Regions from separate parts of the Homo sapiens genome. Here region 1 is linked to region 2. Evidence: fine-mapped expression QTL. A gene starts in region 2. The other region holds a variant in brackets. All regions are shown on one strand. Distances are between the middles of the regions.

Region 1 (2,908 bases), 33 kb before region 2:
TGTCAAGTGAGCAAGTGAGGATTTAAAGTCTAGGTTGATACTGCCCCAGTCTACCAGCAGAGGCAAACTCTGATCTTCTCTGGAGGAGCTCAACTTCAATTCAGGCCGCAGAGAATCCCATGGATAAAGATGTGAAGAAAATGGGCAACTCTGTCAAAAAATCACAACACACACAGAGAAACAACTATGAGGAACAATAGAAACAACAGATGATAGAAACATTCAGAAGAATGGCAAAACCCCCCACAAAAACACACAAATGATAGATACAAACCCACAAACACTTCAGATATTGGAATAATCAGATAGAACATAAAATAACCATGTTTATTATATTTAGAGAAATAAAACTTTTTTTTTTTTGAGACAGAGTCTCCCTCTGTTGCCCAGGCTGGAGTGCAGTATCGCGATCCCGGCTGACTACAACCTCCACCTCCCGGGTTCAAGCAGTTCTCTGCCTCAGCCTCCCGAGTAGCTGGGATTACAGGCATGTGCCACCATGCCTGACTAATTTTTTGTATTTTTAGTAGAGATGGAGTTTCACTATATTGGCCAGGTTTGTCTTGAACTCCTGATCTCATAATCCACCCACCTCGAGCTCCCAAAGTGTTGAGATTACAGGCATGAGCCATGGTGCCCGGCCAAAAAACGTCAGACCAGAAGGCCATGGGGTCAAATAATTTTTTTTTTTTGAGACGGAGTCTCACTCTGTTGCCCAGGCTGGAATGCAGTGGTGTGATCTCGGCTCACTGCAACCTTTGCCTCCCTCGTTCAAGTGATTCTCCTGCCTCAGCCTCCCCAGTAGCTGGGATTACAGGTGCCTGGCTAATTTTTGTATTTTTAGTAGAGATGGGGTTTCACTATGTTGGCTAGGCTGGTCTTGAACTCCTGACCTCAAGTGATCCACCCGACTCAGCCTCCCAAAGTGCTGGGATTACAGGCATGAGCTACTGCGCCTGGTCAAATTTTAAAAGTTTTAAAAAGATTAGCAAGAAATAATAGATAATGAAGAATGACCAAGTGGATTGTGAAAAACAAAAAACTCCAAAATAATAATAATAATAATAATAATAATAATAATAATAATAATAAAGGAAAACAAAAAACCCAATAGAACTTGAGATAAAAATGTAGTAATTAAAATTAAAAATTCAGTGCATGGATTAGATTAAGCACAACTGAAGAAAAAATTAGTAAACTAGAAGATAGAGCTGAGGACATTATCAAGAATGCAAACCATAGGGAAAGAGATGGAAAAAAACAAGATGTTAAAGTGAAATGAAAGACAGAATGAGGTCTAATACACCTCATTATATTTCCCAAAGAGAATAGGAAAAAGGGCAAAGATAACCTCTAATATTAATAATGCAAATTAAGGCCAGGTGCAGTGGCTCAGGCCTGTAATCCCAGCACTTTGGGAGGCCAAGGTGGGCGGATCACCTGAGGTCAGGAGTTTGAGCCCAGCCTGGCCAACATGGTGAAACCCTGTCGCTATTAAACATTTCAAAAATTTTCAAAACAAAAATATTTTTGTTTTGAAAAACAAAAATTAGGCTGGGTGCGGTGGCTCACACCTGTAATCCCAGCACTTTGGGAGGCCAAGGCGGGTGGATCACAAGGTCAGAAGAT[T/C]GAGACCATCCTGGCTAACATGGTGAAACCCCATCTCTACTAAAAATACAAAAAATTAGCTGGGTGTGGTGGTGGGTGCCTGTAGTCCCAGCTACTCAGGAGGCTGAGGCAGGAGAATGGCATGAACCCAGGGGGCAGAGCTTGCAGTGAGCGGAGATTGCACCACTGCACTCCAGCCTGGGTGACAGAATGAGACTCTGTCTCAAAAAAAAAAAAAAAAAAAAAAAAAAAATGCTTGCTGGGTGAGGTGGCTCATGCCTGTAATCCTAGCACTTTGGGAGGCTAAGGTGGGCGGATCACTTGAGCTCAGAAATTCAAGACCAGCCTCGGCAACAAGGCAAGACCCTGTCTCTCTAAAATATAAATAAAAATGTTTAGGCCGGGCAGGATGGCTGACGTCTGTAATCCCAGCACTTTAAAAGGAGGCTGAGGCAGGTGGATCACTTGAAGCCAGGAGTTCGAGACCAGCCTGGACAACATGGTGAAACCCCGTCTCTACTAAAAATACAAAAATTAGCCAGGCATGGTGGCATGTGCCTGTAATCCCAGCTGCTCAGGAGGCTGAGGCAGGAGAATTGCTTGAACTCAGGAGGCGGAGGTTGCAGTGAGTGATGGTGCCACTGCATTCCAGCCTGGGCGACAGAGTGAGACTCTGTCTCAAAATAAAATAAATAAATAAATAAAAATTTTTAAATGCTGAAGGAAACTGTTTACAGAAATACATATATTTCTCTTTCTATGAAGCTCAAAAATTGCCTGGTACTGTGGTTTGCACCTATAATCCCAGCTACTTGGGAGCCCGAGGCAGGAAGATCTCTTGAGGCCAGGAGTTCCAGACCAGCCTAAGCAATATAGCATGACCCTGTTTCTATAAAAATAAATAAATTGGCAAAATTTAACAGTATATTGCTTAGGGATACAAACACAATGAAGAAAAGTAAGGAAGTGATTACTTTCAAATTCAAGATCATGGTTAACTCTCGAGGGAGATGGGTAAGTATGTAACTGGGGAGGTACGCACACGGGCTCTTAAGTTATTGGTAATATTCTACTTCTTAACCCAGGCGATGGGTATGTGGGTGTTTTATGTATTCTTTTGTATTAAGACATTTCATTTAAAAAATACACTAGCCAGGGGCAGTGGCTCATGCCTGTAATCCCAACACTTTGGGAGGCCGAGGCAGGAGGATCACCTGAGGTTGGGAGTTCGAGACCAGCCTGACCAACATGGAAAAAACCCCATCTGTACTAAAAATACAAAGTTAGCTGGGCGTGGTGG
Region 2 (2,908 bases):
AGCTCATTTCAGCTTCCGTCTTTAAAAGCTGAACCTCGCCCCTCTCCCACATCAACATGAATCAATTGCCAGGCACCTCACAAGTCTTAGATGAGCCGAAATTTAAAGCTTTCTATTAACCTTTACTTAACCACTGGCCACCTTCCTTCCTACATAAGGTGACAGTGTTGTCTGTAGAGGGTTCTAGCTCCCGGCTATGTGGATTTGAAATCCAACTGTCACTAACTGTGTGACCTTGGTTAAGTGACTTCATCTCAGTTTCTTCTGTAAAATAACAAAAACAAAAAAAATTGCAAATATCTTGCAATGGGTGGGAGAATTAAATGAAATCTGTCTTAAGTGCTCAAAGAATGCCTGACACACAGTAAGCGCTTTAGAAGCGTCAGTTATGATTACAGTAATAATTCATGGACGCAAAGTGCTTAAGACAGAGCCTGGCACATTGGAAAGATAATGATAGCGTCAGCCTCGTTGGCTTCCTCTTCAGATGCACGCTCAGGAAAAGAGCGCGGAGACCTCTCCAAGATTAGAACAACTTAAAAGGATTTGGAGGGCAGGCGAAGACAGGTTCTCACACCTCTTGAGACATGAACGCTTGTTACCAAGTAACAAGAAATGGGCCCCCCAAGACCCCAGAACCACGAAAAATAAAAATAAAAGCAAGCAGGAAAAGAGCCCCCAAACCCGGCGGAACTCATGCCCTCATCAAACTGCCTTCCGAGAGGACGAGCACCGAAAAGTCCATCTCGCACAGCACGGCACACGTCGTCCAGGAGGCTGGACTGGGATCCCCAACCATCGCTCCAAAGACCCGTCCAGTGCGCGGGGGCAAACGGGTAGGGGCGGGAAACGTGGGGGTGGGGAGCGGAGTTTTCAAATTCCACGGCCGGGAGGAAGCCTGCATCCTCGTGCAATGAATGAGCGGAGCCTGGAGGGTCCGCAGCTGGCGACAAGTTGGGAATCCCGGGCTGGCCTCCCTCCGGCTGCAGTCCCCGGCCCGTGGGCCAACTCGAGGAGCTCACTCCCCACGGTGCTGCAAGCCCAACCGGCCTCCCAACTCCCCTCCCTCGAGCCCCCGGGGCCGCCTGCCGCCCTCAGGCCCGCCTCCCCCTTCAGCCGCCCGCCGCCCCCCTTACCTTCCAGCAGCCGTTGGATAATGCTGTCGATGTTGAGTTTATCTAAATCCGCCATCGCCTTCCCACCGCCGACCCTCCCGCAGCGGCGCCGCCGCCGGCTCGCGCCCGGGACTCACACCTCCTTTCCCACGCCACGAGCAGAGGCGGTGGTGGCGGCGGTGGCAGCAGCCGCGGCGGGTCCCCCCCCTGCCACCCCGCTCCCTACTTCCTCCTTCTCTCCCCACTGGAACCACGAGAAGAACAAAATGGCCGCCGACTCCTTAGACAGCCTCGGGCGGCGCACGGATGCGCGCGGGGAGTGCAGCGGCCCGGCCGGGACTTCTTTATGGGCCATAGGGGGCGCGGGAGGGGGCGGGGCCCGGGCGCTGGAGGGGGCGGGGCCCGGGCGCTGGGCGGGGCGCAGATGGCTGAGCGCAACCGCGTCCCCGCATGGGATCCTTCCGCCAAACGGGCCGAGTAAATAGGCCCGCCCCCAATGCCGGGCCCGAGCGAGAGTTGCAAAGTTGCACGCGGGAGTTGGGGCTGGGGGAGGAAATGCAGCTGTGCACACCGCCGGTTGCGGCCATCGCCGGATCTTGTGCATTGAGTCTAGATGTTTGCAGACCTGGACAGGTGGGAGCTCACCGAGGGATTTCGGGGGTCCTGGAACTTACCCTTTAAGATAAATCTGGGGTGAGGATGGAAAAGAATAATAAAGAAAAGAAGGTTGACTTATTTTGGATTCAGATATACTGGAACTTGGGACAAGAGAAAGGTTTATTTGGTAACTAAAAAGAAAAAACCCTCTTTCAGATAAGTCAAAATGTAACAGTTAACTCATTGTGAGTGGTGGGTATATGGGTATTTGTATATATATTTTTTGTGCACTTCTGTAACTTTAGGGGTAAAAAATCCATACTCAAAGAAAATTTTATCATTTCTGTCCCTTGGATTTATCTTCCCTGAACTCGGAAAGTTATGTAATCATCGGGACGGTTATCCCGATTCTAGCCAGGGCAAAGTTGAACGAGCGCGTGCAGCAGTTAAAAGGGGAATTTGCAGATTTCACGCGTGCAGGCCGGGGGCGGGAAGAGAAGATGCAAGCTGCGCGGGCGGTCCTGGGTTCTGCAGACACCCGAAGAAACTTTGGCCCATTCCTCTCTGGCTTCCCAGCCTCCCCGAGGGCACTCCTATCCAAGGGGCCCCCAAACTGTGCCACCTCCAGGGGCTGCGCGTCGACTTTGGCTGGGTTTGGAAGTACAGCCCACACTCAGCAAACAGATCGGCTCTCTTTCCTGACCTTTCCATGTACGTTGCTTCCTGCAGCGCTTTACATTTTGCAAAGCCCCCTCTCTCCGAGAAATTCATTTTGTTTCCCAAGGCGTGCAGGATGCACGAATCCCCATCTCAGTATGCCACGAGGTAATTGCACCACCCAGGCATCCTCTTCCAAAGCAATGTCCTCAGGGTGCGGGCTCCATGTCCCCTTACTTGGGCCCCCTCGCTACTGGTGCAGGGCCCTTGAGTTTCAGAACTCAGCCTATCGATCCACTTTCCTCAGGCACTAACTCACTTTCCCCTGCTACAGCTCTGTCCACCAGAAGTCACATAAGTGCCATTTGTCAGGCCAAGGCAATGAGCCCAGTTGGTGACATTCGGAGTTGGTGCCCAGCGCTGCTGTGAACATCTGGCTATGGAGGTCAGGGGGGGCTCTTGCTGGAGTCCACAGGACTTTGGGCTACTCCAGGGCAGGGTGCATCATCGGAATGGCATTTAGGGTAGAAATATGAAAG

What was found. PIP is the estimated chance that this variant, and not a neighbour inherited with it, causes the effect. A credible set is the group of variants that fine-mapping cannot tell apart.
Region 1: its variant is the best candidate, but not a certain one, in a credible set for the expression of PPP1CC in whole blood (INTERVAL, PIP 0.60).

Annotation. Positions count from the first base shown.
Region 1 is chr12:110,708,885-110,711,792 of GRCh38, forward strand. It overlaps a transcript of PPP1CC not described here. Among named protein-coding and RNA genes, the nearest start is that of HVCN1, 21 kb to the left of the region's middle. The variant T/C (reference allele first, on the strand shown) is at 1,630.
Region 2 is chr12:110,741,517-110,744,424 of GRCh38, forward strand. It overlaps PPP1CC (protein phosphatase 1 catalytic subunit gamma), which reads right to left and starts at 1,375. Exons shown (of 7, transcript NM_002710.4): 1 at 1,137-1,375. The coding sequence starts at 1,191. RefSeq lists enhancers at 1,100-1,608, 2,370-2,908 and silencers at 1,246-1,305, 1,466-1,605.